Regions from separate parts of the Homo sapiens genome. Here regions 2, 3, 4, 5 and 6 are each reported to be linked to region 1. Evidence: microRNA targets listed by miRTarBase, many of them from high-throughput screens and not tested one by one. Region 1 holds a microRNA gene; each other region holds the end of a gene's coding sequence. Distances are from middle to middle.

The links. Region 1 holds the annotated microRNA hsa-miR-3606-5p (UUAGUGAAGGCUAUUUUAAUU, at 2,691-2,711, shown strand). A microRNA usually pairs through its seed, bases 2 to 8, with sites in the 3' UTR of a target mRNA and lowers its output. Matches are read on the target gene's strand: a 7mer-m8 pairs with bases 2 to 8, a 7mer-A1 pairs with bases 2 to 7 and ends in A, and an 8mer does both.
Region 2: miRTarBase lists SP100 as a target of hsa-miR-3606-5p. The part of its 3' UTR that is shown has no 7-base or 8-base seed match.
Region 3: miRTarBase lists CD2AP as a target of hsa-miR-3606-5p. Seed matches in the 3' UTR shown: 8mer at 3,600-3,607.
Region 4: the mRNA of ARPP19 is a reported target of hsa-miR-3606-5p. Seed matches in the 3' UTR shown: 7mer-m8 at 542-548.
Region 5: miRTarBase lists AHCYL2 as a target of hsa-miR-3606-5p. Seed matches in the 3' UTR shown: 7mer-m8 at 776-782.
Region 6: miRTarBase lists TRPV2 as a target of hsa-miR-3606-5p. Seed matches in the 3' UTR shown: 8mer at 3,514-3,521.

The regions. Positions count from the first base shown.
Region 1 is chr2:188,992,955-188,997,062 of GRCh38, forward strand. MIR3606 (microRNA 3606) reads left to right here and starts at 2,676; the gene lies at 2,676-2,738. COL3A1 (collagen type III alpha 1 chain) reads left to right here. Exons shown (of 51, transcript NM_000090.4): 16 at 407-505; 17 at 1,084-1,128; 18 at 1,280-1,378; 19 at 1,587-1,640; 20 at 1,770-1,877; 21 at 2,092-2,145; 22 at 2,738-2,836; 23 at 3,171-3,224; 24 at 3,444-3,542.
Region 2 is chr2:230,542,496-230,546,603 of GRCh38, reverse strand. It overlaps SP100 (SP100 nuclear antigen), which reads right to left. Exons shown (of 29, transcript NM_001080391.2): 29 at 998-3,768. The coding sequence ends at 3,658. Among named protein-coding and RNA genes, the nearest start is that of SP100, 130 kb to the right of the region's middle.
Region 3 is chr6:47,623,460-47,627,459 of GRCh38, forward strand. CD2AP (CD2 associated protein) reads left to right here. Exons shown (of 18, transcript NM_012120.3): 18 at 727-3,804. The coding sequence ends at 768. Among named protein-coding and RNA genes, the nearest start is that of ADGRF4, 73 kb to the right of the region's middle.
Region 4 is chr15:52,548,285-52,552,392 of GRCh38, reverse strand. ARPP19 (cAMP regulated phosphoprotein 19) reads left to right here. Exons shown (of 3, transcript NM_006628.6): 3 at 289-4,108. The coding sequence ends at 459. Among named protein-coding and RNA genes, the nearest start is that of ARPP19, 19 kb to the left of the region's middle.
Region 5 is chr7:129,426,233-129,430,340 of GRCh38, reverse strand. AHCYL2 (adenosylhomocysteinase like 2) reads right to left here. Exons shown (of 17, transcript NM_015328.4): 16 at 3,778-3,898; 17 at 130-3,302. The coding sequence ends at 3,296. Among named protein-coding and RNA genes, the nearest start is that of STRIP2, 6.1 kb to the left of the region's middle.
Region 6 is chr17:16,436,405-16,440,512 of GRCh38, reverse strand. It overlaps TRPV2 (transient receptor potential cation channel subfamily V member 2), which reads right to left. Exons shown (of 15, transcript NM_016113.5): 15 at 3,510-3,724. The coding sequence ends at 3,624. It overlaps SNHG29 (small nucleolar RNA host gene 29), which reads right to left and starts at 1,526. Exons shown (of 4, transcript NR_045025.1): 1 at 1,453-1,526; 2 at 260-328. It overlaps SNORD49B (small nucleolar RNA, C/D box 49B), which reads right to left and starts at 1,004; the gene lies at 957-1,004. SNORD49A (small nucleolar RNA, C/D box 49A) reads right to left here and starts at 477; the gene lies at 407-477. RefSeq lists enhancers at 321-1,222, 1,528-1,857, 1,918-2,107, 1,223-2,122, 2,123-3,024 and 1 more.

The DNA.
Region 1 (4,108 bases):
CTATAGAAGGGTATAAAAATATCTTGGAGGCAAGAGAAAAGCATTAGATTGCTTCTTGCAACTGATTTTTTTAATCAGTCAAATGGATAGCTTTTATCTATACATGTCTTTAAAGCCCTATTCTTGATTCTAAAAGAGGTGTTGTCCCTAGTATTCAACTATCTTGATATTTCTTCTGCTACCTTCTTTTTTTCCCCAGACTCTTTCTAGGAAACTGATAATGCAATCACACACACATAGTTACATTTTTCTCTGCCTTTACGATTAATGATTCCTTGCTTTACCTGCAGTATAGAGTCCCACTACTCCAACTTTTGGGAGATGTGTTTAAACAGGACTGAAGGGTGAAGTGGCTAAGTGAGTAGAAGTGGTAAGAGAAACTGACTACACAAGGTTTTACCATTAGGGTGAAGTTGGACCTGCAGGGTCTCCTGGTTCAAATGGTGCCCCTGGACAAAGAGGAGAACCTGGACCTCAGGGACACGCTGGTGCTCAAGGTCCTCCTGTAAGTATCATAGTTGAGAGGGAGTAAGCATAGTTTCATGCTTACTCCATGAAAGCATAGTTTCATGCTTACTCCATGAAAGCATGTGCTTCAATATGGCTATCAGTGAAAATTACTTTGAAAAAATTGTTGCTTAGTGCTCTAAAATGATCCTCCTGTGACACATACTGATTTGATTAGTAGTAAAAATGATAGTTTTTGACTGTTGCACTATTCCAGAATTCATGATTTTTTATGTTTATATAAAAGAATAGAGGATAGACTAGTTTTCTGATGCTTTCAAGAATGTGCCCCAAGCTAATCACCAATCATAAAAATTCAGAGAAGAACCAAATTCAAAATCTCTTCTATTTATGTATCATTTAATAATTTATACGAAGTACATATTATCTCTAATTTATTTAGATAATGATGATTCTTTTGACCACATTTCATATGTTGTGTTATAGTTGGAGGATTCACTTAATCTCTACAAAGCATAACACTCATCGATACATTTATTTTCACACAAACAACTTCAAATATATACGAACTATTTGCATTACTATTAATACATTATCTGTTTTTTGTATACTTAGGGCCCTCCTGGGATTAATGGTAGTCCTGGTGGTAAAGGCGAAATGGTAAGCTGTCCCCACTCCTCAGCCTTATCTCATCCACACATTACTGGCTTCTTTTGCATTTTGCATGACAATAGATTTGTGATATTTAAGTGAGATATTCATAAAAGAACATTCAAGTTCGGCTAATATAGTGTCTTTGGTTTGTTCTTAGGGTCCCGCTGGCATTCCTGGAGCTCCTGGACTGATGGGAGCCCGGGGTCCTCCAGGACCAGCCGGTGCTAATGGTGCTCCTGGACTGCGAGGTGGTGCAGTAAGTTGCCTTGTTTTTTCTCTGTTGACTGAAAGGTATAGTTTAATTCCATCAACAAAAAATTAATAGCAAAATTTTGCTCCTGTTCAGTTGAATTTATATTGACTTCACTCTTGTCTTATAACTTATAACTGAATTATGTGTTACTGGTGATGATTTGTTAGTCGAATCCTCCCTGTGTTTCAACCAAGACTTTGTTATACTTTAGGGTGAGCCTGGTAAGAATGGTGCCAAAGGAGAGCCCGGACCACGTGGTGAACGCGTAAGTTTTACTGCAACAGATCTGGTTATTTCTTGAAAAAATGCAACATAATTAGAAAGTAAACAGGTAAAAACTTTGAACTAAATTCAGTCATAATTTCTTTATTTTACCATCTTTTTTTTTTTTCAGGGTGAGGCTGGTATTCCAGGTGTTCCAGGAGCTAAAGGCGAAGATGGCAAGGATGGATCACCTGGAGAACCTGGTGCAAATGGGCTTCCAGGAGCTGCAGGAGAAAGGGTACGTTTTCCATGGGGCATCTAAAAGAAAAGCAGCATCACTGTCATCTAAATAAAACTACCTTCAGGGTGAGACAGCCAATTTTTCTTAAGTTGAGTGTTCAGTGAAAATATTGTTTAAAGCATTCTATGACATAAAAATATTTGCCACTCAAGAATTATGAAAAAGAATTGAAATCCTTTGGACTGAAATACTTGTCTTTCATTATTTTCAGGGTGCCCCTGGGTTCCGAGGACCTGCTGGACCAAATGGCATCCCAGGAGAAAAGGTAGATAACTTTAGTTTCTATGTTCCTAAATGCTAGCACCACAAATGGGCAGTTCTTGTATACAATTTCTCATTCATGAAAACCTAAATATCTGAAGAATATATATTAGAGTTAAGAAAAATTCCTAATATAATGCATCCTCTGTTCAACAACTTTCCTGGCTTTGTAACTAAAGCCACTTACTTACCCTCTATGAGAATCCTTTACTTATCTGTTAATTGGAAAGCATTTATCTGAGCATCGTTGCAAGAGTACAGTAAACTAAAATGCCTGAAAAGTCTTTGAAAACTCTAAGGTTACATCAAATATGATTTCATAGCATTAAGATATTTGATTTTAGCTGCACATAATTATATTTTTAAGCACAGTGAATACTGTTTTATTAAGCATGTGATGTTCACAAAGTTGCTTTAAAATTTTTTCAATATGGCAATCCAAGCTAAGATAACTGATTTTATGTATAAATGTTTCAGCAACACACGAACCCTTTTTAAAAGTTCAAATGACGTCCTCTCTTTGTAACCAAAATATTGTTGCTATCTAGGTTAGTGAAGGCTATTTTAATTTTTTTAAAATTTCTTTCACTACTTAGGGTCCTGCTGGAGAGCGTGGTGCTCCAGGCCCTGCAGGGCCCAGAGGAGCTGCTGGAGAACCTGGCAGAGATGGCGTCCCTGGAGGTCCAGGAATGAGGGTACAGAGAAACATTTGTTTGAATGACACTTTAATTTAGACAGAAGAAAGGCAAGACAAATGAAGACAGATCAAAAGCAACTTAAATCAATCAGATTACATATTTTGTAAGGCACCAAACAAAACAAAATTCTTTTAAGTAAACTTAAGCCGAGATAGTTCAAGGAGAAGAGAAGATAGAACACTTGCCTTAGATACTTTATAGACAGGAAAAAAGATGTGCAAATCTGAGGCTTCACATGTAAGTGAAAATATCAAAATCATACAAATAGTGTATGTAGTAATTTTTTATTATTTCATTTTAAATCACCTAACAACTGACTTCTTTACTTCAGGGCATGCCCGGAAGTCCAGGAGGACCAGGAAGTGATGGGAAACCAGGGCCTCCCGTATGTACATTTTTAAAATCTCATTTTAAAAGGCCAGTTAAAATGGAATGTATATGTTGGCCTATCCTTGAGTGTGTGTGTGTGTGTGTGTGTATATATATATATGTATATGTATATCTATATATATACACACACACACACACACACACATACTATATATATAGCATGCTTTAATCTTCTCTTTATCAAACCTTTATTAATGTAATTTTTTCTTATTAGGGAAGTCAAGGAGAAAGTGGTCGACCAGGTCCTCCTGGGCCATCTGGTCCCCGAGGTCAGCCTGGTGTCATGGGCTTCCCCGGTCCTAAAGGAAATGATGTGAGTTCCTTCATTAATTTCTTCAATAAATATTTGACTGGAAGGCTTTTATTTTCCATATGGAGTAAAGAAATGGTCAAAACTCAGTCTCCTCTTCAAAGCATGGAGGAGTATATGAAAATCAAATTGCATGTAGGAAGGGAGCTAAATATATAATTGGTTATGGTTGTATGTGTGTGTATGGAGCAGGCAGATAAAAAATATGAAACAGGCTGGGTGCGCTGGCTCACGCCTGTAATCCCAGCACTCTGGGAGGCCAAGGCAGGCAGATCACCTGAGGTCAGGAGTTCTAGGCCAGCCTTGCCAACATGGTGAAACCCTGTCTCCACTAAAAATACAAAAATTAGCCAGGCATGGTGGCATGTGCCTGTAATCCTAGCTACCCAGGAGGCTGAGGCAAGAGAATCACTAGAACCCGGGGGGCAGAGGCTACAGTGAGCCAAGATTGCGCCACTGCACTCCAGCCTGGGCGACAGAGCAAGACTCAGTCTCAAAAATATGTATGTGTGTGTGTGTATATATATATATGAGACATATATATATGAGACATATATATATGAGACATA
Region 2 (4,108 bases), 42 Mb from region 1:
CTTTGAGAGTTATTCATCTCTCTGAGTATCTCTCATATATACACACACACATATATGCATATACATATGTGTATACATATATGTATGTATATACATGTGTGTATACATATATGTGTGTGTGTGTGTGTGTATATATATATATATATATGCTAATAAACTTCTGTTTTTCTCTTGTTAATCTGTCTTTTGTTACAGGGGCCCCAGAGGATCTGGGTAGGGGAAACTTAGAAGGGTAGTGGGAAAATTATTTTTTCCTCTTTTACACATGCAAATACACCAGGGTGCCCTGGCAGAATCATTTTCCAACAGAACCAAGAATTGTCTGGCCACGCGTGGTGGCTCACGCCTGTAATCCCAGCACTTTGGGAGGCCGAGGTGGGTGGATCACGAGGTCAAGAGATCGAGACCATCCTGGCCAACATGGTGAAACCCCGTCTCTACTAAATATACAAAAAATTAGCCGGCCGTGGTGGCAGGCACCTGTAGTCCCAGCTACTTGGGAGGCTGAGGCAGGAGAATGGCGTGAACCCAGGAGGCAGAGCTTGCAGTGAGCTGAGATTGTGCCACTGCCCTCCAGCCTGGGCTACAGAGTGAGACTCCATCTCAAAAAAAAAAAAAAGAATTGTCCGAGATTTTAGTGCTCAATGGAGGAATGCTTCCATCCCCTAAACCGAATACGATTCCATGAATTGAAAGTTGGAGGTGCTATGTAGCCACCACAGGCTTCCTGATGCCACTGGGTAAAAGGTGAAAATGATACCATCTAGTATTCAGTATGGTAATCAGTGACAAAATTACGTATAAATAACAGTAGCTTTGTGTAATAGGCAATAATCAGTAATAAAATTCAATGGGAAAAGATTGCTTTCACGGCAACAACAAAAAATACAAAACTGAATAATTGGGAAGATATAATATGATCCTTTATAGAAAGACTTTATGTTATCAGTTGTAAGTTTCGTTCCAAATTATTCAATAAGAGAACTTGATAAGACAATTTTATTATTAAAATTTTTTTTAATGATCCATTTATTTACAATTAAAAAAACTTTTAGGTTCAGGGGTATATGTGAAGGTTTGTTATATAGGGAAACTCTTGTCACGGGTTTGTTGTACAGAGTACTTCATCACCAATAGGTACTTTTTCTGCTCCTCTCCCTCTTCCCATCCTCCACCCTCAAGTAGACCCTAGTGTCTGTTCCCTTCATTGTGTTCATGAGTTCTCATCATTTAGCTCCCACTCACAACTGAGAACCTGTGGTATTTGGTTTTCTGTTCCTGAATTAGTTTGCTAAGGATAATAGCCTCCAGCTCTATCCATGTTCCTGAGACATGATCTCATTGTTTCTTATGGCTGCATACTATTCCATGGTGTATGTGTACCATATTTTCTTTATCCAATCTGTTACTGATGGGCACTTAGGTTGATTCTGTATCTTTGCTATTGTGAATAGTGCTGCAGTGGACATTTGCATGCATGTGTCTTTATGGTAGAATGATTTATATTCCTCTGGGTATGTACCCAGTAATGGGATTGCTGGGTGGAATGGCAGTTCTGCTTTTAGCACTATGAGGAGTTGCCACACTGCTTTCCACAGTGGTTGAACTAATTTACACTCCCATCAATAGTGTATAAATGTTCCCTTTTCTCCACAACCTTACTAGCTGTTATTTTTTGACTTTTTAGAAAGAGGCATTTTGACTGGTGTGAGATGGTGTCTCATTGTAGTTTTAATTTGCATGTCTCTAACGATCAGTGATATTGAGCTTTTAAAACATGCTTGTTGGCCGCATGTGTATCTTCTTTTGGAAAGTGTCTTTTCATCCGGGCATGGTGGCTGATGCCTGTAATCCCAGCACTTTGGGAGGCCGAGGTGGGTGGATCACCTGAGGTCGGGAGTTCAAGACCAGCCTGACCAATGTGGAGAAACCCCGTCTCTACTAAAATACAAAATCAGTCAGGTGGTGCATGCCTGTAATCCCAGCCACCTGGGAGGCTGAGGCAGGAGAATTGCTTGAACCCGGGAGGCAGAGGTTGTGGTGAGCCAAGATCACGCCATTGCACTCTGGCCTGGGCAACAAGAGTGAAACTCCATCTTAAAAAAAAAAAGTGTCTTTCATGTCCTTTGCCCACTTTTTAATGGGGTTATTTCTTTTTGTCTTGTAAATTTGTTTAAGTTCCCTATAGAAGCTGGCTATTAGACCTTTGTCAGATGCATAGTGTGCAAATATTTTCTCCCATTTTGTAGGTTGTCTGTTTACTCTGTTGATTGTTTCTTTTGCTGTGCAGAATCTCTTAAGTTTAATTAGATCCCATTTGTCAAATTTTGCTTTTGTTGCTATTGCTTTTGTCTTTATCATGAAATCTTTGCCTGTTCCTATGTCCAGGATGGTATTGCCTAGGTTGTCTTCCAGAGTCTTCATAGTTTTTGATTTTACATTAAGTCTTTAATTGATCTTGAGTTGATTTTTGTATATGGTGTAAGGAAGAGGTCTAGCTTCAATCTTCTATCCCAGTTATCCCAGCACCATTTATAAAATAGGGAGTCTTTTTCCCATTGCTTGTTTTTATCGACGATCAGATGGTCATAGGAGTGTGGTCTTATTCTGTGCTCTTCGTTCTGTTCCATTGGTCTATGTGGCTTTTTTTTTGGTACCAGTACCATGCTGTTTTGGTTACTGAAGCCCTGTAATATAGTTTGAAGTGGGGTAACGTGATGCCTTCAGCTTTGTTCTTTTTGCTTAGGATTGCCTTGGCTATTTGGGCTCTTTTTTGGTTCTGTATGAATTTTAAAATAGTTTTATCTAGTTCTGTGAAGAATGTCATTGGTGGTTTGATAGGAATAACATTGAACCTGTAAACTGCTTTGGGCAGTATGGTCATTTTAATGATATTGACTGTTTCTACACAGGAGCATGGGATGTTTTTCCATTTGTTTGTGTCATCTCCAATCTCTTTGAGCAGTGTTTCGTAATTCTCATTGTAGAACTCTCTCACCTCCCTGATTAGCTGTATTCCTAGGTATTTTATTCTTTTAGTGGCAATTGTGAATGAGATTGCCTTCCTGATTTGGCTCTTGGCTTGGCTATTGCTGGTGTATAGGAATACTAGTAATTTTCATATACTAATTTTGTATTCTGAAACATCTCTGAAATTGTTTATCAGCAGAAGGAGCTTCTGGGCTGAGACTAGGGGGTTTTCTAGATATAGAATCAATGTTGTGTGCAAACAGGGATAGTTTGACTTCCTCTTTGCCTATTTAGATACCCTTTATTTTTTTCTGCTTCCTGACTGCTCTGACCAGGACTTCCAATACTTTGTTGAATAGGAGTGGTGAGAGAGGGAATCCTTGTCTTGTGCTTGTTTTCAAGGGGAATGCTTCTTTTGCGCATTCCATATAATGTTGTCTGTGGGTTTGTCATAAATGGCTCTTATTATTTTGGGATATGTTCCTCAATACCTAGCTTATTGAGAATTTTTAACATGAAGGGGTGTTGAATTTTATTGAAAGCTGAAAAGACGGTTTTAAAATGGCAATGATAAATTTTGGAGAATTGTGATGTGGAGTTTCCACAGGAGCAGTCACAGATTAGTGGGACCACAGGCACATTGCGTAGCTAGCTGCCAGAGGATCTGAAGGGAGGAGATAAGAATGGCTAAATAAACATTATAATGTTCTTGCTTGTTTCCTGAATTGCAAAAATGTTTCTGAAATTCTTCTCAAAGATGTCCTGTACTTGAATTCCCAGTCTGGTGAATTTATCTTCCTAAAAAAGCAAAGAAAAAAACAATATAGCAGTTATGCAATGAGCTGAGACACCCAGTGTTGCAGATAATCTGGGGCCTCATTTTAGGTTATCCCAAATGTTAAGTGAGAATTAATCTACTTGAGTTGCTTATGTTCCTTGATAATTTAATTATTTATCTTTATCTGGAAGACAAGTCAAAATACTACTACACTGAAATCTAATTTCTGATCAAAAGCTTATGGATTAATTTAACTTTTAAAAATTCTACTTGTGTGATTTTTATGCACAGCATTTTCTGAGTAACCTTATGATAGTACAGAAATGTTTAAGGCCATTTAATAATGTCTTCCTTTTCCCT
Region 3 (4,000 bases), not on the chromosome of region 1:
CACTTGTTAGTGTGGAACATTGGCATCCTGTTTAATGTCTTTGAGCCTCAACCTAGCCATTTGAATATGGCAGTATTGAATAACTCTGTGTAGTTATTGTGCAAACTTAATGAAATGATCTCCTTCTTCATAAATTCCTTAAGTTATGAATTTCCTTCTGCCTAAAGGTGGAACTATATCAAGCACCTTGACTGAATCTTAGATATATTCCTGGGCTTTAAGATATTTAATGTAGTATATACTGGTTACAGATAAGTAAATTGAAACCAAGTCAAGTGATTTAACAATAATTATAATTATAATTAAGTATAATTAGTGAAAAACATGGAACTAAACAGGTCTCTATTCTTTTTACTGTTGTTTATGTATCCTTTGTTTAATTATAGATACATGTACATTTCTTAATTTGGTTTCAAGGATTCTTTTGTTCTTTGTAGGACTGACTGATTTTTTTACAGCTTTAATTTTAAATGCTCACATGACTTAACATTTGTTCTGGCTGAAAGGGCTATAATTGCTTTTTTCTTATTGTAACTGCCATTTAGGAACTTGCATTGTACTGTTGAAACTTTATTCAACCAAATTATAGCATGGGAAACTGGATTTTAGGTCTGGAAAAAAAGTCTGAAGGCTTGAAAGTATGATCACATCTTAATGACATAGAGTAAAATAAACTACTAAACTAAGGATATTTTATGTTTGCTCAATTTATGTTTTTTGTTTTAGATGGAAATAGAGAAGCTGAAAAAAGCTGTCCTGTCTTCTTGAGTGGTGTGGACCTGGTGTTCATAATGTTCCAGGGATTCAGAAGCAACGCTATGAACTTCAGCTGACTTGTTACTTAAAAATTGTGAATTCTGTTGTTGTGATAAATATGAGCAAATGAAGTGTAATATCTATAGAAAAGTAGAGTGAGGGTGAATTTATATATATATTTTGTTTTGCCAATATGAAGAAAAAGAGGCCTTATTTCTTAACTGTGCTGGGATTGCAAACACTTTTTAAAAAATTGTTTGCTTGAAAATACTACTGAATATAAATAAGAATGTGCACAGTAGTTTTTTTATTGAAACTTGTATTATTTTTAAAGAGATCTATACTATAAATATGGTGATATATTTACAAGTAATCTGTTAAGATATACTATTTGAGAGGGACAGATTAGCCTTTTAGTAACTATAGTCACTACTTTTTCCATAATGCATAAGGGATATAAACTCTGTGTGTGTGTGTGTGTGTGTGTGTGTGTGTGTGTGTGTGTGTATATATATATATATATTTTTACTTTTATCCTCTTACCGAAGGTTACACTGTTGTGCCTGTTTGTCTGCAATGCTGTTTATATTTTGGGTGATGAAATAGGAGTTTCCTAGCTATATAAACCAGATTACTCACCCATGCATATAGTAAGAACTAATGAATAATCAAAATAATTTCATCAACTTTTAGAATATTTTATGTTGCTTGCACTATAGGAGTCATAAAAGGAACTTAGTTAAAATATGTTGGATTGTTAAACATTTGGGGAAATATGAACTGTATTTTAAATTTGTTAGGTCTGAAGAATCTAAAACTGTTAATTTAACCCTTAACTTGTGCCTAGAAACTACAGCACATATAAAATATGTAAACACCAGCCTGTTGCTGTACTTTTCTGCTTATTTTACAGCCTCAAATATTTCTCATTATCTTGTCACTTAGTTCTTCATGTTTCTCCTTCTGACTTTTAATAATGGTAATAGGAAAACAAAACCCAAAGCTTTTCAGAACTTCAGTGTGAGGTTTCCTATTTTGACAAGTTAACTTGTAAATACTCAGGTTTTACGATGTATAATTTACCTAATAGACCAAACTAACTCATGGAGATATTTTGAACTATTATTTAGGTACAAACTTTATAAAGAATGTTAGTATGTCATAAAATATAACATTACAGCTTATTTAAAACCAAATATAGTTGAACATATTTAAAATACATTTTCACAGAATGGATGAATTAGTTGTTTCTTCAGAGTTACTTATGAACAGTTGAATGCTTTAAAATGTTCTGTCTGTAGGTAACATCTAAAACACAAGTGGGTTTATTTAAATTTTTAAAATTTGAAATTTTTTATTTGCAAAAAATTGTTTTATGCTTTATTATATCGCAAATGAGTGTCAGATTTTTGAGTACCAATGATCATGCTTCCATTTTTTTTAGTTTTAAACCACCAAACCAATATTTTTCCTTTAAATTTTAATCTTATAATATAGAAATCTTATGTAAATGAAATTTTGTCATGTTTCAAATAAAGAGAACTGAAGTAGAAAATAGAAATGCCAGTAAACAACATAATGTTTAATTTACAACTTACATTAGGGGTTTGGGGGAATGCTAATTATATATTGAGAATATACATTAGAACTCTTCAAAATGGGCTCTTCTAATGAGGTCACTACTGAACAAAATTGTTCCCTCTTCTGTTAAATAGAATAGGTTTAAATGACTAGTCAAATGAATTATTTTCTTCTTGTTAAATAAATTAAATCTTACTTTCTTTTAATGACCAACCTTAGGTAAAACAAAAATATTGTAATCCTAGAAATTATCCTCCAGCTTTCTCACCTGAAAATCTATTGAAGTGATCCCTGGTCATCCTAATAATGGGATGAGGGAAGTTTCCAGCAGATTTCAGGCTGTTCTTAAAGTTTTTGTTGGTCATTTTCTCAATAGTACATGAAATCAAGATGCTTATGAGCATGGAAATGTATTTAAAGTTTTTGCTTGTGTCCTCCTCAGTCAGAATAGAAAAGTAACTGAAATACTTTTACCTTTCTGTCCTTGATAAAATAGTAAAGAAAACCAAACAAACCCAGGCCTGATGGGAAAAATGATTCCTTTATTCTAGCAACTTACTTTCTGTTGGTATGGGAAATGTTATTAATTTCTATTACTAAAGTTCATATCACAAAATGATATTTAATAATAACCTTGGGGTAAATCATGAATTTTTTTTCTACGTGTGAGTATAAAAGACAAAAGTTGAACAGCATGGAATCTCATTGCCAAATTATTAGTGAATGTATAGTTCAGGTATTCTTTGAGACACACAGTATCATTAATTTCTGAATTGTATTTCAGTGTTATTTTTTGTTTGTGACCACTAAGCTTCTGTCTTAATACAAAGCTGTTACCTTCTACAGAATTTAAGTCTGAAGATGTAAAGAGAGAACAGGCCTTGTGTAACAGAAGATACTCTTTTTTATGCTCCTTACTGTGATCACAGAAAAATTAAAAATCCAAGTGCTCTCTAGATTTGTTGATAAACATTTTATGCTTGCATTTAAACTTGAAATGTATGAGCAGAATGAGACAATCAGTTAAATCAGAAATGAGAAGTATTATAATGTAAAGGCCTTGTTTTGCTGTAGCAATAAAATGACCAAGTGCAATGACTTGATTTAATAAAATCATATTTTAAAAGTTGCTGCTATGAATATTTTTGGCTATAAAATTTTACCCTGACTTGCTTTCAATAACTGTTACGTAATGCAGTTGATGTTGTAACCTAACATTCCAAAAAAAAAATTGAGAGGGGGAATCTCAAAATAGTATATACTTCACTAACTTGTTTACAGGTGCTGTATTTAAAAGCATGCTTCTCTCTCAAAAAGAAAAATTAAAGGATTTTATTGCCAGTCGTGTCAGTCTTTATTGGTTATTTTTTGTTAACTTTAGCATTTGTGTATTTCAGAGTATGATGAAAATTATATTACTTCAATTTCCAAATACAAGAATAAATAGTAAACCAAAAACATTAAAAATTCTAGACCCGTATGACTTTTACTGAACTTTTCTGAGTCTGGTTTTTCATCTGAAACTGAGACAGTAATTTCTACTTTACAGGATTATGGGGAGAATTTGAAATAGTTTATCTAAATGGCTTTGTAGAGTGCTTGGCATAGAGTAGGTTTTTTTTAAAAAAAAAATGGAGGCTGCTGTTTTACCTTTTTAAAAAGC
Region 4 (4,108 bases), not on the chromosome of region 1:
TCGCCATATTGGCCAGGCTGGCCTGGAACTCCTGACCTTAAGTGTTTCGCCTGCCTTGGCCTCCCAAAGTGTTGGGATTTCAAGAGTGAGCCACTGTGCCCAGTCTGAAGGGGGGCTTCTCGGCTGTTGACTTATGCTGGAACTCAGTACAGAGACTATTTCATCTAATTAATATTCCTGTTTAAATTCTTTTAGACCAACCTTATACGGACAGTATGGGGTTGCATCGACATCTTAAATCAGTAATTGCTAAGCTCTAATCTGAATTTTTTTTGTTTTTACTTATAGCAAAAATATTTTGATTCTGGGGATTACAACATGGCTAAAGCAAAAATGAAGAACAAGCAACTTCCTACTGCAGCTCCGGATAAGACGGAGGTCACTGGTGACCACATTCCCACTCCGCAAGACCTTCCTCAACGGAAGCCGTCCCTTGTTGCTAGCAAGCTGGCTGGCTGATTAAGAGGCTGAACTGCATGAATCTGCTAAATCTCATTATTTCTCCTTAATATGTTACTTATCTACTTTTTATTTCCTTTCATTCACTAGTCATTTGAGACTGACAGCTTTGCAGGTAGCAGTAGTGTGTGCTGCTATTGTGGAATATACGTGTGTAGAGTTTTTGATTAGTTTAACAGTGCACTGGTGAAGAGGACATGTTAGAGCAACATAAGTAAACTACTTGAAAATAGTTGTATATATTACCTAACTTCTAGTGTAGTACTGGTTCTAACAAGTAACAAGCAAGTTTTAAAATTTTAATGTTTTGGCTTTCATTACTTCATCTTAATTATAGCTTTGTATGTTACTCTTATTTAATATAATCTCTATTGTATTGATTTCTTCTGTATTTACCTTTTGGATTTTGTAAAACAGAAGTTTAAGACCACAAGTTAGAAGAAAGGTCACATATTTCAAACACAACTAGATGGGGCTCTGAAAGATTTGTATCTCTGTGCTTGAACTTGAATGGCCTTAAACCTGTTTCAGCTTTAACAGTAGAATTTTACTTGGGCAATATTTGCCCATTCTGGTGTAACTTATGTGACTCTAGTGCTTAACAGCTGCCGTTGAAGCTAATATTCAGTTCTGTAGAGTTAGAATACCTTTTGTTGTTGAAGATGTGAATGAAGTATGCATGTGCATTAACTGTTGAATTCACTTTTGTGCCATTTTTGTAAATACAGTAGTTTTGCACAACCTCTCACAAATGTCTGTATTAATTTCACATACTTAAAAAGTAGATAATGTGCCAACCAGAAGCACAAGAGTTCCTACACAAAACTCTGTAAATCATTATAGCTTTTGTATAATAAGAGTAGTTTACAATCTCGGGCTTATAGAATACCAAACTGAAATCTTAGTTCAATCTGCCATAGACTTAAGCTTTTCATTTGTTACTAATATCCATGACATTCAGTGGCCTTGTGCAAATACGATATGTTGCTTAGGCATATCTTTTGTCCTATGCAGAACCTTTCATTTTGATTTTTATGAAAGTTGCAATTCATGTAATTTATATAAACTTTTTAAATGTAGAAACTTTTTACTTCCACACTCAGTTTTGGAGACCCTAGAATAAAAGGCTTCAATACTCTGCATTCCATGCCCTCTGCCACCTGCTTTTTTTTCCCCTTTGTTCTTTGACTCAAATGGTATTGAGCTGTTTGTTGTATATGGAAGCATAGGTGTCTATATCCTTACTCTTTTATATAACACAATAATGGCGTTTTCCTTCTAATTTCTCAGTTGTTAACTTCTTTCTCTTTTTTTTTTAGGATAGGGCCTTGCTCTGTCACCTGAGCTCTAGTGCAGTAGTGCAATCACAGCTCACTGCAACCTTACTCCTAGGCTCAAGTTAACTATTCTTGATCCTTTATTATTACTAATATTCTACAATTGTTTAAATAAAAGGAACTTTATAATGAAACGGTTCGGAATACTGGCTCAAGAACCTATGTCAAGATGAGCTGAATTTTGGTAAATTATTTTAGGAATTATGACAAGCTAATTGAATTAGGCTTGTGACAATTAGAGTAATTTACATGACAGGTAAAACTCCTATTAAAAATGTTTAGATGTTTGCTTCTGTAGATGTCACTTTAGTAAAATACCAATTTAGTTTTACTTGTGGCTTATCTAGTTAGAACTTAGCAGACTTTACTGGGACAAGTTTACTGCTCTTGTAGGAGCTCCTCTCACAAGTAGTTGTAATGCTGTAGCATGATACTCAGGATCAGTAGCTTGAGATGCTACTATTTTTCTCTTCATCTTTGACTTGCAGAGAGCCTCCCGTTTTTGGATCCAGGCATCTTTTCTGAATCCTGGTTCCATCAGTATACCTGCTCTCCTATGACCCCAAATCATAGTCAATGGTGCCTCAAACATAGCACCTTAAGTTAAAGGCTGCCTAGTGCTCTGAGGAAAGCTTGCTGATTATCTTCCTGATCTACTCACCCCAAAAGGCAGAAAAGCAACACAGTCACTGCTGTGGTCATTTGTAATGTAAAGATCAGTTATATATATATATTTGTAATGAGAGCAAGTATATACTCATTATAGAATCAATTTAAGAAGTTTAAAATAACCCAGAGTAGAATTTCTATATCTAGTCTTGGTTTTTTTCATGAATATTTGCAAGTAATTACCATTAAATTCACACATGAAAGATTAATCTGAAAGATCAGAGACCATGTTATTCCTGACCACGATAGAACTGCTCCTGTGGTTTGGGACAAGTAATAAAACAACTGCTTGAGTTTTGTTTGTAAAATACATAATTAATATTTGACCTACCTCAAAATGTATTGAGGATCTGTGAAATGCTAAGTGCCCAAAATAAAATATTGCTGATTGTCTTTTTATTAAAAGTAAATTTCCTCATTAAGCCAACCTGCCTTCTGTAAGTCACAGTGCTTAAATCTCAGGATTTTTCATTAGGAGAGACCTGTCGTTAAGGATTTGTAGGTATAATTGCTTAGCCTCCATTATTGGTGCTTGGGATAGAGAGGTTTTAGATTTTTGTTTTTTTTTTGTTCTGCCTCAAAGCTCAGTTTATTGAAGACATTTGTAAGCTATTGGATCATCACTTGAATCAAGATTTTGACTAGTGAGCTTAATTGTCCATTTCTTACAATTTCAAAGTTACAGTCTCAGAAATGGTTAATTTTAATAACTGTCCTATCATAAATTAATGTTGGAATAAATTGAAGTTGTTGATAAATACTTCATGAAAACTAAAGTCTGAAATAAATTACTTGTTTTATGTCCAATAGCTACTACATTTGATAGAACAGTTTTGAGGAACATTTCATTCTTGAACGCAGCATCTGACATGGTTCTCAGCAAGTTGGAATAGTAAGGATTATTGGCTTGTTTCGATGAGTGGAAGCGGCATGTTTGTAGCATACAAGTTATTCAATAATCTTGTGCTGATGACCTAAAAATATGTCTTAACTATTCATCAAGGAAAGCCTGGTGAAGCCTTTACTTGTTACTACTTCAACAGTTGGAATTAGTTGCTCTTTTTACTTGATGAAACAAAACTATACCTCTGAATATTTATGGATACTTTTTACTAAATCAGGCTTGTGTTCTTAATCCAAATTAGTAAAGTTTTATGGAAGCTGAAATGTAATACAGTAGTCTCCCCTTATCTGTAAGAGATACATTCCAAGACCCCTAGTGGATGCCTGAAACCTCAGATAGTACTGAACCCTTTATCAACTATGTTTTTTCAGTCTGACAACCAAGGCGGCTACTAAGTGACTAAGGGGCAGGTAGTATACAGTGTGGATAAGCAGGACAAAGGGGTGATTCACATCCCAGGCAGGACAGAGCAGGAGATCATGAGATTTCATCACTCAGGATGGCTTGTGATTTATTTTATTTTATTCTTTTTTTTTTTTGAGATGGAGTCTCACTCTTGCCCAGGCTGGAGTGCAGTGGTGCGATCTTGGCTCACTGCAACCTCTGCCTCCTGGGTTCAAGCAGTTCTCCTGCCTCAGCCTCCCAAGTAGCTGGGATTACAGGCGTCCGCCACCATGCCCAGCCAATTTTTGTACTTTTAGTAGAGATGGGGTTTCACCATGTTGGCCAGGCTGGTCTC
Region 5 (4,108 bases), not on the chromosome of region 1:
TAAGGTCAAACATGCCCATTGGTAACATTTTCACATCCTTGCCCTACAGCAGGATCTCTAGTTTGTTGCCCAGAGATCTCTCTCATCTCTGAATTTCTAGTTCACAGAAACAAGAAATACCCTTAAGAGTCCATGTTAAGAATATTTTATTTGTTTTTTGAGATTACATAGTCATTATTGCTGATCTAATACAATCACTTAGACATAAAGATTTCCAAGAACTTCTCAGAAATGGTGATCTTTAGAAGTGTTATTCCTTTCAGTAAGATGACAGAACTAGATGATTACGTATATAGATATATAGATATATATATATATATGTATATATAGAGTTTAGAACCTGTCCACATATAATTTGCTGGTGTTGCCTATTTTCCTTCCGTAATTTTCCTTTATTGAAAAAGCTTAATGCAACAATGCATTTTGATTCCTTTTTAAAAACCACGGCAAAGTTAATTTTGAGAAAACCACAGGAGCAGCAATATCAGATCTGTTTAGAGAAAAGCGAAGCAGCATAAAAGCTTTGCAGGAGTATGTGGCCATGGGGAGCCGTGCTCATATGGGCAAGTAGGATAGGGAGGGAGGAGAGCAGAGGGAAGGTAGAGTAGATACATTTTTTTTCTTTGTTTAAATGAAAAAAAGAAAACTGAATATCTCCATTAAGAAGGCAAAAAAGTGCCAGGCACGGTAGCACACACCTGTGGTTCCAGCTACTCAGGAAGCTGAGGCAGGAGGATTGCTTGAGCCCAGGAGTTTGAGACCAGCCTGGGCAACATAGTGAAACCCTGTCTCTAAGGGTGAAAAGAAAAGAAAGAAAGAAGGCAAAATATTAGCACAGATTCATTGTAGAGAAAATGTTATGTATCCTCACAGACTGGAGCCACATACAAAGAGATAAGTAGCCTTCTTTCCCATGCTTCCAGATAACCAGGATGCATCTAAGGTAAGAGGTTGGAGGAAAGAAGACACATTGCTCTGATTCCAAGGGTAGAGGGAATAATGACCAGATTTCAACCCTAAGATAGAACCCAAATACTTGGGAGGCTTGTGGTTCTTTCTTCTTAATGGTTGATAACACAGTGTCCCTACAGAGAGGTCATCTGAAACTCAGAGGCAAATAACTCATCATGGGCAGCAACACTGGCAACCTAACTTAGAAGCCCCGTGTGGCCCCTTTTTTATTTGGAGTGGGTCTCTTCACTACAGCAAGGCAGAATGTACTCTTTAAGTACCAGCACATAGTAAGCTCCAGAGAGCAAGGCTTTGCTGAGAAACAGCAGGTTATGATTTTTGGTCTAAGAATACAATAGGCTAGAGACCATCTATCTGCCAAATGGAATCTGCTCTGGATATAAGATAAGGTACAAAGATCTGAATCCCTTGCTAAAGGGAACCAATTAATACAAAAATCAGGACTAGGTAGGCAAAAGGAAGAACTGAATGGCTTAGTGGAATTTTTAGCATTTATGATCTTCCTTACAAAAAAAGAATATAACCAGTACTTGCTGAGACATATGGCCTCTGAAGAACTGTAGTCTATGGGCTGAGCCTGTATACTATTAAATGAGGCAAACAGTCATTTACCAAAGTTCCACTTCCCTACTTCCGAAAGTAAGGTCACTTTCAGACTAGCTTTGAGAGTATATGTGAAGACCAGGAGAAGTTGGAGAGGGTAGAGGTAGAAGAAGAGAATCAGGATGGGAAGGTTTTGGTGATCATGCGTGGTCTGGTGTTATCTTGAGTCACCTTGGTCTTGAGACTTTGAGGCAGACCAGCATAGGAAAAAAGTGGGAAACAAACAAACCTGAGAGTGTTAAAAAGGATCGGTAAGGGGAAGAGGCTTATTTAATTCAAGTTTCCTAGGGCCAGTCCAGACTAACTCTTAGAACCAATCTGGTCCTAATGAAATGCCTGAGACCAACAGATCAGTCTCCAAAAGGAATCCAATTTTTGGGTGGGACATAAAATGTCACGCTGCCCACACCACATTACTAATTCTTTTTGTAGCACTGGAGTTACTCAAGAAACTGACTCTGAAATACAGAATCATCAAATGGAAGAGGTTAAATCATAAAAGATATGCCAGCAGAGAAGTCCACAGATCAGACTGCAGATCTCGGTTTCATCCATGGCAATGGCCAAAGGAATGAATGTCTGACGAGGTTCAAACTAGTCAAATTAGCTTTGATAATCTGGATACAGTTTACAATTTCATCTCTGTATCCCTCAGCCAGTCAAACTGCAATGGCCTTCCTGGGAAACAAATAAATATACTCTGCTTTGTTAGGGTATCAAGCTGTGAGTCTGAAAGACCTGTCCCATTTCCAAAGCCTATCCCCCTAAGTCCCTGGAAAAGTATGCCTTTCCCTACTCAGTTTCAGACGTAGCTTTAGGCAATAGCAGGAAGTTTCAGGAAGCAGTGTTTCACAACAAGCTCTCCTTTTCTGAGATAGTGCCAATCTGGAGGGGCTTCCTTGGAAACTATCCAATCAAATGACAAGGAAGTAAAACTATGGGTCCCAGTGGAGCTGGCCCCACTTCCTGAGCAGACGTTGGCTGGATTAGAAAGACAGCAGAACAAATGTCTGACAAATACCAAAACTGTGGAGGAAATAATGGAGGCACATCCCTCTTGCAACCAGGAAGTGTTAAAATGGACATAAATATTCAAGGAGAAGAAAGGAGTCCTGGGTAAGAAAGGAGACCCCTGGTAGGCACAGCACAGCTGAGTTCTTGATGTAGCTTGGCAAAGCCATAAATAACACTCCTTCCTTATTAGCCTTTATATAAAGAAGGCAGTGATAGTGATGGTCAAGATTGGGAACCCAATCTTGTGTGAAACACTGGCCATGTTAATTCCAAACGGCCTCACCCGGGGAAGGGCCAAGCTGAGAAAAGCAGGTGCTGAAAATTTATTCCAGAAAACTCCAGGGAATAGGGAGTATGGAATCCCTGGACTAACTCGTGAGCCTGGACAAGAGGAAAAACGGCCACTGCTGAGGATTCAGTCAATGGGGAATGATGCAAATGATGCACTGGGAGCAGTAACCCCATTTCTTTCCTTCCTCAGCCCATCCTCTGTGGCTTTCATGGCCCTCAGGGCAGTAACCACACTCTGGGCCAACACTACAGGCACAGGATTCTTGATTTTAATAAATAAATAACCTAACACACAGGGTGAGCACGGCAGGCAGCTTTGATTGGAGAAGCAGCTTGCTGAATTCTTTCTTGTATAGTAGTGGAGAAAAGGCTTGGAGTTCTATTCCTTAAAAATTCTGGTTTGAGTTACAGGAACTTAATACCTGGAGGGAAAAAGAAAGATGAGACTGTGATGTTATCAGCTAATGGGGATGCTGGGACATGAAGAGCCTGCCTAAAGGTGTAACAGGGAGGCAGAGACTTTTCTGGAGTGTACAGTGACAGGAAATAACTGTGTTTCCTTTTCACATCATTGAAAAAGGCCAATATTTCTCCATAAAGAGATAAAAATCATAGCAACAAGATGAAATGGGGAAAGGAATTGAGGAAGGGGAACTTTATTTAATGAGGCAAATAGCCACTTACCCAAACTCCACCTCTCTATCTCCAAAAGGCAAATTCAGGAAGGGGAATACTATTTAAGGCCTTGAAGAGTCTTTTGAAGGTGGCAGTGAGGGGAAGTGGGTTCATTTTTCTGAGTTCATGTAAGCATATGTGGTTGGGGATGCAAAGACCAATTCCAGTGCAGGAAGCTCATCACTGCCCAGGTGTCCCTGATTTCTGGGGAGCCCAAGGCACCTGTAGTAATTAGGCTTGAAGGGCCCATTCTTGTTGAGTCCCAGATACTTGGCCTGTTCATCTGTCAGCTCTGTCAAGTGGGCATCAAAGGTAGGCAGGTGTAGGCTGGCCACATACTCATCTGGAACAGACCACAGAAGCCCTGGTATAAGCATTCATGCCTTTTATCTGATGGCTATTGTCCCCAAGCTAGGCCTTAAAAAGTTCAAAGACACCTTCTAATTCCTGGAGCTGAATGAAAAATGTTCAACCTTCGCTCACTGGTCCTCAATTCTAAGGAATAGCTGCCTTCAGCTTCAAGCCCAGTGCTTTCCAAAGCCTTAATAATTCA
Region 6 (4,108 bases), not on the chromosome of region 1:
TTTTCCTTTTCACATCTGAGGAAAACTACATCTCAGCAGACAGGTAATTTGCCCGAGACTAAACAGCCAAGAGGTAAATAGAGTAGCCCCTCTTTCTAGGTAATCCACCCTGGCTCCACTGCCACCGGAAACTAAAATCAGTATCTCTGGGATAGGCTACACTGTTACAAGGTATTAGGTTAACCAAATCCAATTGCCAATATTCGACCTGACAGCTAGGCGTGGTCAGCCACTAGCCTCCCCATAGAGCAAGGCTTACCTCATGGCAGGCTCCTGGCTCCAATACTCAGCTGCCAAACATGATGCTGATTCTTCACGAATTTGCAACCTAGGTGAATATAGCAATTAGGTCACCGTTCAAACAAGTTTACTCCTGGGAACCAGCAAGTGGTGAAGACTTGACTGCAATCAGACAGGAGTAGTCTTCGTCAGTTATCGCTTCTGACGGCACTTCCTATTAGTGATTTCATCAGAGCAGTCAAGCACCTCACAACCCTCCAGTACTGTTCCAACCGCAGATCTAGACCCTACCTGAAACTTAAGCTAACCCTGCTACTGGAGACATTTCTTAACGAAGGAGTTTGTTTCTGCATTATCAGTTTGCTTTAAATGCAGTTCTAGGTTAGGACTGTGGCTGAAGCAGCCATCTCCAGTTTCTATTTAAGTTCCACCCTATGCAATGACATGATAACGTTACCCTAAAGTGTATAAAACACCTAAACGTAGAAAACTGTCAAAACGCCAATTTCCGTGCATTCAAGTGACAAAACTACGTTCCATGTTAAACCCTACACCAGAGAGCCTCTCACCTCGTGGCTACCCCGTCTTCAGCACTCTGCAGTGGGTACGCAATCTTAAAGAGGGAGTAAGGACAGGAATTCAGGGCAGGGCTCTGGCAGTTACGGTCAACTAAGTTGTAGAGGTTTCAGCGACTGCGGTCAGATAGACATTAGACGTCGTCAGTTATCGCTTCTGACGGCACTTCCTATTACAAGTATCATCAGGACAGTCGAATAAGTCTTCCAGTAATACTGTTACAATCTTACCGACGTACACCGCCCTCGGGGTACCCCAAACTGCAAGCCGACCCCAACTTACCCAGTTCTCTCGGGTTTGCACACCCCCACTGTGGGCCGGGGAACCGGGTCCCGGCCTTCGCAGACTCCAGGCTCTGGCAGATGTGGCCCTACCACAAAAGAGTGATCCATGAGCCTCAGCCACGGCAGCCGGATTCGGCCCCGCGCTGCCCTGCCAGGCTGTCCAATACCGGGCCGCAGCGCCCGCCGCGAAAGCCACGCGGGCGCAGGAGCCGGGGAGCCACGCCATCTCAACAGCTGCCCTCCGCCCTCTAGACAGGCTTCCCGGGAACATCTCCCCAGAGACCACAGAAGCTCGAGCTCTTTATTTGCTCTTGCCCCCCAGCTACTACTCCCAGATTCCTAGAGAGCCTACCTCCATAACAACGGGAATGAAAAGGTCACACCTTATGTGCGCCAGGCCCTTAAGGAGTCGGAATATCCCAATCCTCACAAAAGGAGGGGGACGCTGGCAAAGACTCATGGGAACTTTCCGCCAAGTAACGATTTAGACCGGCGCGCTACCCAGGACTCCCCCTCCTGTTGAGTCTATGGTCTCTTCCACAGCCCCGGGAATTCTGGGTCACAACACGCGCGGGGAGTTCCAGGGCGCCTGCGCGAGGGCTGGATCGCGCGTTTGGGCCCCACCTCCGCCACTCCTTAGCTGGGTGGTCTTGGGCCAATTACTCATTCTCTTTAAGCTTCCGATTGGTCCTCTAGTAAACGGAGACACCAGCGCCCCAGAAGATCACGTGAGATGACACACGTGAAAGCCTGTAGAGCTGTGGCACAAGGCAGCCATTCATCCTAGTAGCTCCTCCTGAATCTATTGAGCGTTGCCAAATACTCTCCCCACAGCTATTTCACCACATCCACGGGGCTTCTCAAACCCCTGCGCACTGGTCACCCTCATTACTCCTTTAGCACGACCTTTAGGGAACGAGCTGACGTCTTATCTAGATCCACGTCCATCCTCTGCTCGCCTCTGGGGTAAAGCTCTGCCCACCTCCTTTCCTCTCCTCATTCCTTGGGGCCTCCTCCACCTATGCCCCTGCCTCACCTTCCATGGAAAACTCTCTCTACTGTGGCTTTCCTTTCAGCCTATGAACATGCTCAGCTCTCTCCTTGAAAAAGAATCCATGCAACCACGTTTTGCACACACACGTTATACCAAGGGAAAGAAATTCATTTTGACTGCAAAAAACTGGGAAGACAATCATAAGACCTTTTGAGCTGGCCTCAGAAATAAGTGTAGGGTTTTTGTTGTTGTTGTTGTTGTTGCTCGTTTTTGTGTTTTTTTGAGACGGAATTTCGCTCCTGTTGCCCAGGCTGGACTGCAATGGCGCGATCTCCGCTCACCGCAACCTCTGCCTCCCGGGTTCAAGCGATTCTTCTGCCTCAGCCTCCCGAGTAGCTGGGATTACAGGCATGCGCCACCACGCCCGGCTAATTTTGTATTTTTAGTAGAGACGGGGTTTCTCCATGTTGGTCAGGCTGGTTTCGAACTCCTGAACTCAGGTGATCCGCCCGCCTGGGCCTCCCAGAGTGCTGGGATTACAGGCGCCCGGCAAGTGTAGGGTTTTATTTTATTATTATACTTTAAGTTCTAGGGTACATGTGCACAACGTGCAGGTTTGTTACATATGTATACATGTGCCATGTTGGTATGCTGCACCCATTAACTCATCATTTACATTAGGTATATCTCCTAATGCTATCCCTCCCCCCACCCCCAAGTGTAGGGTTTTAATGGAGGAGGGGGGCTTCCAGCAAGAGCCAGGTCAAGGGATCAAGCACGAGGTCTCTCGGCCTGCATGAATTTGGGGAGAGTGCTAAGGAGGGAGGGGCAACAGAGGTGGAGGGGAGGAGGTGTCTGGAACTGCTTGGGCAAAACCGTGGGGGTCTCGGGATGTCAGCTAGGGCATTCTGTGGGTACTGGGGAGCCTCTCAGGCCTTCAGAGCACAAAGAGGACATGTTTGTCTTATGTCTTAGGAAGGCCCTCTGGCTGCCCTGCAGAGAATGGCTTGGGAGGGGTGGGAATTGAGCAAGAAGCTCGGTAGGAAGAGAAAGCAAGAGAGGTGGCTTTAATGGGTTTTCCCAGGTACCTGCCCAAAAGCAGGGTGGGTGTGGAAAGCAAAGGGTGTCGTGGTGGAGAGAGAGGAGAGGTGGCTGTTTGCCCATGTCCATCACCATATATCTGCCACAACAATGGGCACAGCACCTCAGCCAGCTGCCTGTACCCAGGAAGAGGACAGTCCCCAGACTTGGGGATGTGGGGGTGAGGGTGGGGACACAGCAACTGAGGGTCTCTGTGCCCAGGCAAGGGCAGGAGCAACCTAGTCCCATACACAGACCTGTGCACACAGAGACATGCAGACATTGCCAGCTCTAAGGGTCCCAGCAACTCTGCCCAAATAATGTTTCCAGAAGAGTTAGTTAGTGAAAATATATATTTGCCACCAGAATTCACTGGGACCCCAGAGCCAGCAGATGTGGTTGGAAAGATCCTCTGCTCTGTCCTCTGGCCTCCTGCTGCATCTGGGCCATCAGTTGGACTGGAGGAGCTGGACGGGCACATAGTTTTCCTCAGAGGCACCATCCTCATCCTCCTTGGGAGGGGAAGCCAGGACAGGGTTCTCGAGAGTTCCTGTAAACAGATGGCAAGCACTGTAGCTTAACCCTTGAGTGTGTCCCCAGGAAGCAGGCACCAGGGAAACGGGGCCACAGTCATGAAAACACGTCATGCCGTGGGGACAGCCTCAGCGATCCTGGAGGCCAGCAATCCTTCTCCCTGCTTCCCTCACTCCACAAGCATTTCCCAATCCCCTGCCATATCAGGGGCTTCCCCCTGCCCCTGCCACCCCCAGGAGCTTAAAGTGCCTGGAGGTGACAGACTTGTGTGTCAGAGATCAGAACACCTGAGACATGCTGGGGGAGCTCAGAGGAGAGAGGGGACCTGTCCTGCAGGGGCGGTGGCAGATTTGGACATCCAGAGGGGAGGAAGAGCACTTCCGACAGAGACGAATCCAGA